Homo sapiens: one gene and its partners. The protein of the gene in region 3 purifies or fractionates together with the protein of the main gene of each other region. This does not show direct contact. Each region holds a gene or a part of one and is shown on either strand. Other genes may lie near its edges.

Evidence for each region.
Region 1: the proteins of FUT8 (region 3) and MAN2A1 purify together in Homo sapiens (affinity purification with mass spectrometry; 2 studies listed by BioGRID and IntAct, with this or other methods). This does not show direct contact.
Region 2: the proteins of FUT8 (region 3) and MGAT1 purify together in Homo sapiens (affinity purification with mass spectrometry; 2 studies listed by BioGRID and IntAct, with this or other methods). This does not show direct contact.

Annotation. Positions count from the first base shown.
Region 1 is NC_000005.10:109,687,610-109,691,358, reverse strand, and holds the start of MAN2A1 (alpha-mannosidase 2), read right to left. Parts: upstream 1,433-3,749; 5' UTR 942-1,432; coding exon 807-941; exon of another isoform or gene 260-806; intron 1-259. UniProt on the Homo sapiens protein: Catalyzes the first committed step in the biosynthesis of complex N-glycans. It controls conversion of high mannose to complex N-glycans; the final hydrolytic step in the N-glycan maturation pathway.
Region 2 is NC_000005.10:180,796,083-180,799,831, forward strand, and holds part of MGAT1 (alpha-1,3-mannosyl-glycoprotein 2-beta-N-acetylglucosaminyltransferase), read right to left. Parts: intron 1-3,749. UniProt on the Homo sapiens protein: Initiates complex N-linked carbohydrate formation. Essential for the conversion of high-mannose to hybrid and complex N-glycans.
Region 3 is NC_000014.9:65,737,719-65,741,467, forward strand, and holds part of FUT8 (alpha-(1,6)-fucosyltransferase), read left to right. Parts: intron 1-3,749. UniProt on the Homo sapiens protein: Catalyzes the addition of fucose in alpha 1-6 linkage to the first GlcNAc residue, next to the peptide chains in N-glycans.

The DNA of each region.
Region 1 (3,749 bases), on a different chromosome or scaffold from region 3:
AAACTGAACTCGCACATGCCGCGCGGTGGATACCCTTCCAAAGGGAACAGACTGTGTCCGCTTTGCTTATTTTTGGTAACTTTAAATAAGACTTTGGATGGGTCGTCTTCCCAACTCATTTACCAATTTAACCACTGGACGCAGGACTGAGCGCCCCACAGCTTTCGGCCGGAGTATAACACGCGCTTCCCCACTCGGTTCCCCCTGTCTGCCACAAACAAACCAGATGTAATAGCTGAAGAATGACGACACTAAAATCAACCTAGAGATTCACATCTAAAAGGGCCGCAACACGAAATAAACTTCTCTCTCTTCAGAGGCAGCGGGGAAGAAAAAGAAAAAAAAGCCTAGGTGGGTTCGGTTTGATCCATTTCCGCGACTCCGTGCGCTCAGGGGCTCTGGGCTGGTGCGGGCGGCTTAACCCTGTGAGAGCCGAGAACGACCCCACCGGGATACGCGGGCCCCGGGCTGGCGGGGGGTGCCTCACGCCGCGCCCGTTCCCCCGCCAGCAGGTGCCCGAAGCCACCCCAACAGGCCGGGTGCGAATGCCGGAACATGGCCACTTTCCTGAGCGGGATGATGCCGCCGCCGCCGCCGCACGCCGCCCAGCACTTTGTTAACTTGGCGCGCCCGGGCGAGGTGGCTCCCAGGAGGTGATCATTGCCGTCCGAGAGCTACAGAGCCCCTGGCCTCGCCCAGCACGGGTGTGGGGCCGCGGCGGGAGGAAGAGGTTGGGTAGCAGCCGCTAACCAGGGGCCCGCACGCCTGGCCCCTCGGAGCCCCGCGCCCCCTTCCCAGGTGCTTACCTGAGGGAAGGAGCCCTCGCGGCGCGGGTTCCTGGGGTAGTCTAAGTGACCCCGGTCCAGCATCAGGTAGAGCGAGAAAATCACCACACAGAAGATCGCACTGCCGAACACGGTGAACTGGCGGCTTAACTTCATTTTCCTCGATAGACTCGGGGCCAGGACACTCTCCTCAGCCAAAGGAGACAGCGCACTGTGGACTCTAGGAAGCAGCCGCCGGAGGCTCCCTTCTCCCGGGCTGCGCGACCTCCGCGCTCTCGGATGCGGGTGCGAGTCCCCGCCTTGCTCCGCACCTAGTCTCCGGCGCCACCACACGCCCTTGGCCTTCGCCCTGGCCTGCCGCCCTCCCCGGGGTCGGGCGCCCCTCTCGAGGCGAGACTCGCCGGCAACTGGGAAGGGGGGCCCCCACAAACTTGATCGCAAGCTCAGCGCCGACCTCCGGCAGGGCGCGCGGGGCAGGCGGAGGAGAGGTCGCTGCCCGCACTTCCTGCCACCGCCGCCCCAACTGAGTCGGCAGGAAAAGTTTTCTCGACGAGGGCAGGCGTGTCCTCCTCACCCAGGGGAGGCGCGGGTTCGGCAGCTCCCGGGCCGGGGCCGCGCAGCTAGGTCAGAGAAGCGGAGGGGAAAGGAACAAGATCGCGAGGAGCCAAGCCCTACAACTTCTGGGCGGGACGGTCGGGCCCGCCCCCGCGGCACCGGCACCGCCCCCGCCTACCCCGACTGAGCCCCTTCGTGCTGCTGCCGCCGCCGCCGCCGACGCTGCGGCTGGGCCGATGTGCACCCCGGACTCCGGGGCTCACGGATTGATGAGTTTCCTCAGAGCTAGCGTCCGCTCGCCAGACTCTCCCGCCCCCCGCCGCCCCTACCTTCCCCCTCCCGGACCCAGGCTCCGCGGGGAGGCGCAGGGGGCGGGCGGCGGCAACGCGGAAAGAAGGAAAAGGAGAGCAGGGAGGAAAGGACCGTCCCCGGAGAGAAGCCCGCTCCAGCTGCAGCCGCTAGCCCCCTCCCTCTTTCCCGCCCCACAAACGCGGAGATGGCGGCGGAAGCGGCGAAAGGAAGCGCCGGTTCTCCAGCGCCACTTGGCGCTCCAGCACCGCCCGCCACGAGCAGGAGGAGACAGCGGCGGCGCAGCAGCCGCTGGGTCAATAGGCGCCCGCAGCGCCTGAGCCGAGCGGGCGGCTGGCCCCGCCCCCTCCCGACGCTCCGAGATGAGGGGGCGGGCCCCACGGCGCCCAATCACAGCGCGTCGCCCGGCGGACCCGCCCCGCGCCTGCCTCCCAGTGTCCCGGCGATAGGAAGACCTCACAGGGCTCTTGTGACCTGGCAGGCAGCTTTCTGGGAGTTGAGGCCTTCGGGGGCGTTCAGGCGCCAGCACCCCCACGTCCAACAGGGGTTGAGCTTACACCCCACTTCCCTTTGTTGCTCAGGTTTCCTATCCTAGGACACTCGGGCCTGGCGTGCCTGGAAGAGTACTTGGTGACGGGCTGGAGGAAATGCAAGAGAAGAGGGCTTGCACATTCTCTTCGGGCTCACTATTTCCTCCTTTGGTGACAGCCTGTTAAAACCTGGGGGAAAGGAGACTGACAAAGGGCCGTCCAGGCACATGTAGAAACATCTGACTACGAAATCCATGAGTGTAATCTGAGAAGTGATGCTTCTGCCAGTTATTGATTTATTGCCTCTCAGCTCCAAATTCGCCCTTTTTGACTGCACTGTAAAAACGGATCTGAGCCTTTTAAACAGTTTTTCGTTTGCCTTCTGGGACTGAAGCTTTATCAGCAGAGGGCGCTGAAGAGACATTACAGAAAAAAAGGATTTTGCTTCCTGATTTCTGTGTATTGATAAGCTTTTGCAGCATACCTGGCTTTCTCCACTGCCAAGGTCCTATAGTGCTCAGTAACTAGCAATTTCCTCTCACATGCCCAACTCTAGGAGCTTTGTAGAGGAGGTGAGACACTACCCCATGAATAACTTCCCTGGCACCCTAGAGGCATTTGCAGCAAGTTGCAGAGGGCACATCTTCCACAAGCTTTGCAGACGTAGCCCAATGGTGACTTCTCTGCCATTCAGTGAGCCAGGTCATGCCCTCTCCAAAAACGTCTAGATCTTAGCCCTGGGAGGAATTGGGGAGGTTCTTCATTGGGCACTCTGTCTCTCAACCCAAGAGTTAGTTATAAGGTTAGCTCCTTATAGCTGCTGTTGCTATATTCTTTAAAGTTCTCTTCTTGCTAGTGAATCCTTCATTACTCTAATCCTCTATTATAGTTAACAATTCTTTTTATTAAGCCTTCCCTGTCCCGGGAGTAGTCCCAAGAAATAGACCTGCAAAGATGGGATTAAAGGTCAGTTTGATTGAGGTTTTGAGCTTTAGCTCCTTGCCAAAGGGAAATGTAATTCATGACATGCTGGGCATCTCAATTAAGCAATTACCTGTGGTTGATCCTGATGAAGTGCCAACTGAAGCCTGTGCCTTGGGGCCCCAAGTGGCTGCTACACTTGACTGCTATGGTTATAAAGATGACTAGAAAGACTGGTGTGGGATGGATTCTTTTGCGTGCTTTTGAGTGGTTATAAAGAGAAATGACAAGCACAGGTTTTTTAACTCTCAGAGTTATGGTATGAGAACCAGAGATATTCTGCAGAATTCCAAAAGCTCTGGTTTATTGTAGCAACAAGAATTATGCTGAGAATCAAACAAAATTTTAATTTTCATGTTACTGAATTATAACTGCTATTAAATTCACACATATTCTGAGTTTTTCGTGTAAAATGGTGTTATTTTTTAATAATAGAATCTCAATACTTGAAATGGGTTGGACCCAGATGAAACCGACAATCTTAAACACGCCAACTCTTTCTCTTATCAGTGGAAGTAGGTTGCCCTCCAGTGTCTAAAGAGACTAGCCTTGCTTGAAAACCTTGACTATAGAGGATGCCACTATCTAG
Region 2 (3,749 bases), on a different chromosome or scaffold from region 3:
CAGCTCTGCCAGTTGCCCTCTGCCTCACAGGCTACTCTCTAATCCTGGCCAAAACCTTGGGCCTCAGATCTAACCTCTGAGGCTCTGGGCTCTCAAACCAGCAGATCTGGTATAAAAGGGCTGATCCTGAAGGGCCTCTAAAGAGACATGGATTCTGTCTCCCTCCTGGGGAGACTTCACCAGCCCCTGCCAGCATTCACCACCAACCACTTGTCTTCTTCCTAGAAACCAACCACCCCCACCACGCCAGGACATCAGTCTTCTCAGAAACGTCAAGTCTGTTTCCATGTAACTGTGCAATTAAATTCTATTATATCAGGGCTCAAATATTATGTATCAATTAGATACATGTTGTCAAGTGACCGAGAAATTCAGGGCAAACGTCGTTTCAGTTGGCCTTACTGCTGTGCCCAGCTGGGGCCATACAGATGGATGAAGCTACTCAGAGCTGTGGGCCATATCCCCATATTTGATTTTTAAGAAAGTTTATGTGGAAGAAAAGAGTGATGCACAAAAGAGTTTCAGTTTTTTTTCTTTTTTTTTGAGACAGAGTCTCACTCTGTCTGTTGCCCAGGCTGGAGTACAGTGGCATGATCTCAGCTCACTGCAACCTCTGCCTCCCAGGCTCAAGCGACTCTCTTGCCTCAGCCTCCCGAGTATCTGGGATTACAGGTGCCTGCCACCACGCCCAGCTAATTTTTGTATTTTTAATAGAGACGGGCTTTCACCATGTTGGCCAGGCTGGTGTTGAACTCCTGACCTCAAGTGATCCACCCTCCTCAGCCTCCCAAAGTGCTGGGATTACAGGTGTGAGCCACTGGGCCCAGAAGAGTTTCAGTTTCTTCTTCGCTCTCCCCTCAGGATGTTGTCCATGTTGGAACTTTCCCTCCAATCTAATGGCCAGGATTCCCTGTCTCCCAACTTCCCACCTCCTAAATGACTGTGCAAGAAAAAGACTTTATATAACAGGATGGGGATGGAGAAGAGGGACTGAACTCTATTCAGTGAAGTGCTGCTCTGCATGGCTTAGAAGGGTGGGGCCCCACTGGGCTTGGTGGCTCAAGCCTGTAATCCCAGCGCTTTGGGATGCCAAGGCAGGCGGATCACCTGAGGTCAGGAGCCTGGCCAACATGGCGAAACCCCATCTCTACTAAAATAAAAATTCAAAAATTAGCCGGGTGTGGTGGTGCGTGCCTGTAATCCCAGCTACTCAGAAGGCTGAGACAGGAGAATCCCTTGAACCTGGGAGGCGGAGGTTGCAGTGAGCTGAGATGGCACCACTGCCTTCCAGCCCGGATGATGAAGCAAGACTCCATCCCCCACCAAAAAAAAAAAAAAAAAAAAAAAGGGGGGGGGGGCCCAGAGGGATAGCCCGTCCCTGACTCATCAATGACCTGCAGGCCCTTATGGCAAAGCCTCCTGGGACCCTTGAGATAACTTCTGCACCCTTTAGATGCCTTTTTACTCTTCTCCAGACATCAGAATTTGGTGGCCCACACCCACTACCTGATGCTTAGGACCTCCTGCCCCACCCTTCTAAGCCATGCAGAGCAAACCAGTCTTCTGACTGAGTTTTTACTTGGCAAGTCTGCACACACATGGAGTGGCTGCAGAGCCCACAGGAAAAGCTGCCCCGGCCAAGCCCTGGCCTCCACCTTAATCAATCCCTGGGCCCTTGTTCTCCACCCCACAGCCCTGTGCTTCAAACTTGCTCCTGTTGCCATAAGAGGACATGACACCCCTAGTTCCAGCCCACCTCCTTAGGCTCAGCCTGGGCCCCAGTGCTATTTTCCTACTGTTTATCCACGTAGTTCCTGGGATAGGATCCTCAGCTCTGCCTGGAAGTTAGTGCTGTGTGCACACACATGAACCAGGAGCCATACACCCTCTCACAACTGGCTGTGCCCAAAAGGATGATCAAGCCCAGACCTTGGCCAGCAGCGGTGACCTGCTTCTCCAGGAAGCACTGCTCAGGCCACCATCAGGAGAGTGCAGCAGCAACAAAGGCAAGCCAGACAGCCCAGAGGCATCACCCTACGTTTTGCCACATTTCTGAGACTCAAACTGGGTTGCTGTGAAGATCGGATGAGATGAGCCATGTTAGGTGTTTAGAACAGTGCCGGCATGACAACGTAAATATCGGCCGTTATTTCACTCCTTTCTCCCCATTTTCTTTGCTCCACTCTACCACACTCCCGTCTGGTACCCCAACAGCCAAGCCTACCGTCGGGGTCTTTGCATGTGCCCATGTGCCAGCTCTGCTCTTCCCTATCTTCTTCACCTGGCACACTCTGATTCGTGTCTCTGCCAAGATGCCTTCCTTGACGCCTGGGACCATGTAAGGTCCACCTACCCTTCACCAACAGCAACAAGCGCAACCACTTGCTCAACTTCTCTCAGGCCCCCTCAGCTGCAAGCTACATGAAGACAGGGATTGGCTCCACCAGCACTGCCAAGCCGCTGTGCTAGGGCTCTCAACATTCAGCAGATGTGCCTGGGATCTAAAAACATCCACAGTTCCTCAACTGTAACTGCCAAATCCAAGAAGCACTAAAACACAGAAGTTTTCTAAACTCAATTGGCAGTAAAACCTCATCCAGCCTCATTTGGTAAAATCTGATCTGATCTAATATGGGGCTATTTATAGTCTTTTCTCTCTCCTGCTGTGGCTATTCATACATTTTGCTACAGAAATAAACATGGTGGCTTATGCCATGCTGCTTCTGATCTTCCACTACAGAGTAAATTCACCAGATCATCTTTTCAAAATCCAAAAAATTCTCAATTCTGAAATACATCTAGGACCAAGAACTTCAAAACTATGAAAATGGAAGTACAAAGTTACTCATTGACTGCTAGCATCCCATGTCAAGCCCTCCAGCCCTTTAACCTGAACTCATTCCTTCGTAGGAAACACTGTTTTAAGTCTGGACTCTTGATGTAGTTTCCCAGCTGGTCCACCTGTCACTAATCTTGCTTCCCTCTCACAAACCTTCCCAACAGCAACAGCGCATCCTTCCTGACAAGTACACCTGGTCACGACATTAACTTGCTTTAAAAACCATCAGAGGCTGCACTGCCCACAAACTCAAACTCAAACTCATTATGATGACATCCAAAGCCCTTCAGACAGACTGTCTGAAACATCCCTTTTCAACCTTACCTCCAACCACTAACCCCATGGACCCTGCACTCTGGCCTCAGCAGGCTGCTTTTTCCCCAGTAAGCATATACCTGGACGCTGCTGTGTCTCTGCTCCAGCTGGTCCCTCATCCTGGAATTTGACCCACAGCGCCACCTGCCAGCCACCCACACATCCTTTCAGGCCACTTCAGGTGACTCCTTCTGTAACATCACAGACAGAGCCAGGCCTCCCTATGACTACACTCCCACAGCACTCTCTCCACGCTGTAACAGAATCTGTGGCCACGCTGACCTGACTCCCACCTTCCTCCTTAGGAAAAAAGACTCTATGACCTCTGTGCCCACCACAGTGCTTGGCACATGTATGAGGTTCAAGTGGCTGGATGGAAGACTGCTTGCACTATTACCGAAATCAGGGAGAAAGATGGCCAACGCAGCAGCAAGAGAGTGAAGTGTGACATTTTCCAGAGATGACCGCACATATCCCATTCCATATGCTCTTCTTACAAGTGATAAAGACACTCCTGCCTCCAGAGCTGAGGGTCTATGTTCCCTCCCTTTGGTTCTGGGAAGAGATGCTATGTGACTTGTGAGACTAACTCATA
Region 3 (3,749 bases):
GTTAATGTTACTCTGTAGTTTCAGCCATTAAAAGTTATCATAATACAAAATCCTTTTTTTCCCCCTATGACACCTCCCTTTATGGCAGTTATTACAATACTCTCATGAGCCTCTCTTGGTCTAATTCCAAATCCGCACGCAATTCTACTCCCCTTATTACACTTTGAATCAGATTTTGGAAGCCCAGAGGGCAAAACCAAAAACTACGTTAACTATTCCAGACAGATGGCTCTGGACAGGAATTTCCATTGAGATGTGGCTCATGAAACAACAGTGGATACCTGTTGAGAGTACCATGGAGGAAAGCACAGGGTGAAATCCCAAGGTGTGAACTCTGTGATTACTTCCCAGAGCAGAAGACAAGAAAAGTATTTGCATCCACAGAGGCTCTATCTAGCTTACAATGCTGAGTGCTGTACAGTGCAGCTGTTACTGCATTAATCCTTCTGGTGTTTCTCACAACAAAGAAAAGACCTGGGTCTTATTCTCTTATTGTATAGTAAAACAAAGCAGATTACAGGAAAAGTGCACAGATCTCTCAGCCACTTCCAACTTCTCACACTAGGATATCCTCCTGCCCCTATCTATCTATTTTGACAAAAATAAGATCCCATCTACTCTGAGAAAGCTTTGGAGGCTTATGTAAACTCAGGCTACTTCTAAGGGATGAAATTCAGACTAATGGATTCCTCCCCCTTTTTAAAATTTTTTTTAATACAGTCATATCTGTTTTATCCTTTGGCAGGATTTTTGCTGTTACCCATTACTGTGTGCTTTACGATGTACTAAAAATGATACAGTGCCATGTCAACACAGAATAAAGTTAAACATACTACATGTAGCCAACCACTGCTTTGCAAACCATGGACTGCTCTCAGTCATGCCACCTGTCAAGCATCAAACCTGAGTATGGACGTCAGCTGCAAGCCTTCATTTACCTGCCATGTGATTTGAACTTTTAAACCACGTGGTAGGTAAGGAAAGAAGAGAGGAAGCATAGAGTGACTAAATGCGAACATTAACACTATAGTAATCTTTTTAGCCTTTTGCAGTAAATTGTCCCATGGTTGATATAGACAGTTTTAAAATTACTTCCTCTTAATGTTATATATGGATCTTAAGGGTTAAATATCACCCATGGACTTGTGTCTCCATTACTGGGCTGGTATTATGCCTGGAGCAATATTCATTCAACAGATACTTATTGAGCACGTACTTTGTGGCAGGCATTGTTCTAGGTGTTTATCCTAAGGGAATATATACTCAAGAGCCTGAAAGAGTTCTGACTGTGGCTCTGCCATTAACTAGTTCCTTTTTGGATTTTTATTTTTATTTTTTGAAATTTACTTAATCTTTCTGTGGCTTAGCTTCTTCATCTGTAAAATATGAATAATAATAGTACCTCACAGGTTTGTCATAATAGTTAAATGAGTTGAGACAAGGTGAGGGAAGAGCACACTATTATAACACTGCCTGGGACATAATCGGTGCTCATTAAGTTCAGCTGCTATCTTTAATGGTCATTCTTATGAGAAAAATAAAGGGCCACACCTGTGTAGCACTGGTATGCTTGCAGAGGCCTACAGTCACATTTGTCATTTTTATAATGGGCCACCTCAGTGTCTGAAATCTCTACTATTATTATAATAGTTATTTCTTTGGTTTAAGAAAACAGTTCTGTTATCCACCAAGGTTAACACATGAACAACTCTTGATAGCAAAACATACACTAATTATTAGGATTATCCCCAGAAGAAACAGGTCTCTAAGGGTGTGGGACAGGGTGCGATGTTGTTTTTATGAGAGTAAGACGTTTAAGAGTGGAGAGGAGGAAACACATCACGGTTCATTGTCACAGTAGAGATTGTGGTCATCCTAAGAGTAACACAAGGTCCTGCATTCCTGGCTAGGGATGACTGAAGAGTGGGTGAAGACACCCTGAAAAGAAGACTGTCAGGTTTACCCAAGACTGTCTTTGGTCTTATGCTATATCTTTCTGGTGTTACAATATGAACATGGAGAATAAGATTTACAAGAGAAAATATATATAGCAGTTTCAAGCATATGCAGACTGCCTGGGTTCCAACCTGAATTTACCACTTATTAGTATAACCTTGAGCAATGCCTTAACTTCCCTTTGACATTTGTAAAACAAACATAATGATAGAATTTTATGGGGATGCTGAAAGGAATCTAATTACATTAGATAATGTCTAAAAACAATGTCTGACAGTTAGCAAAAGCTCAGTAAATATTAGCCTCTGTCATTGTTATTGTAGTTTGCTATTATTGGAGCTGCTTTAATTATTTAGTTTCTTCTTTTCCTGAGTCCCACTTAATTTTGCTTGCCTTCTATGAGCCTTTGGCTGAATTTGAAATTCAAAAGTTCCAAATCTTTTTGATCCCTATTTTATTATAGTCTCGGTATTCTACCAATGATCTCAATTGTAAAATGACATTGCCAATATAATCGTTGTTGAACTAATAAATCTGAAAGCAAGGTTTCTATTATTTTGGTTCTATATCTAGTTGAAATTCTATCACTAAAATTTGCATAAATCACTTAATCTCCTTGTGTTTTAGTTGCCTATCTGCAAAATTAAAAATATTGGGGCAAATGTAGTTTCATTTGCAAATTATATATAGCATTTGAGAATTGCCCCTCAAGTTTTCTGAAATTCAGATTCTCTAAGTTGAGGTGATGATTAACCTAGTCAGATTTTATTTGATAAGAGTTAAGAATAGGCATCTCCATTTGTATTAGTCTGTTTTCGCATTGCTAAAAAGAAATACCTGAGACTGGGCAATTTATAAAGAAAAGAGGTTTAACTGGCTCATGGTTCTGCAGGCTATACAGGAAGCATGATGCTGGGGAGGTCTCAGGCAACTTACAATCATGGCAGAAGGCAAACGGGGAGCCAGCACTTCACATGACTGGAGCAGGAGGAAGAGAATTGGGAGGTGCCACATATTTTTAAACAATCAGATCTCACGAGAACTCACTACTGTGACCACAGCATCAAGGGGTGATGGTTTTAACCATGAGAAACCGCCCCCATGATCCAATCACCTCCCACCAGGCCCCATCTCCAACATTGGGGATTACAGTTCACCATGAGATTTGGGCAGGTAACACAAATCTAAACCATATCACCATTCAAGTTTTTAATCTTCATAAATGCCAAGGTTTTAAAAGACTGCCGGGTAGTCCTAAATTGCTCCACTGAGCAGATAAGCAATTACTATGAGTAGCGTCATTTTAAATACATGCAAAACTATTGGTATAGTGACAATAAAGCATTAACTAAGATTACCATAACTGGAGATTTAGGAAAATTTCATCTGAGTTGCATTGTTCTCTTTTCACAATGTATAAATTGCTTAAATTGGGTGATAGTTTAGTTTAACTTTATTACTAAGCATTAACCTCAAGGATTGAAGCTCAGATTGTGGAATTTCACCTGCTATCCAGTGAGCAGAGAGGGTATTCTTTGGACATAGGGACCTTTTAAGTAGCCTTAAAACTATAGTAATCAGGGTGATGCATTTCCTCAAAGGCTTGCCCAGTTTATGTCATCCAAGCATGCCACTCTCTACACAGCACACTTAAAACTTTTTAGAACAGAAATTGCCGATGTGTTTTAGCTCACTTGCCAGTGCTTGTTGATTGTCAGTAATTACATGAATCTCTCTTGAAAACAGTTCTGGGAGCGGGGAGGGATAGCATTTGGAGATATACCTAATGTTAA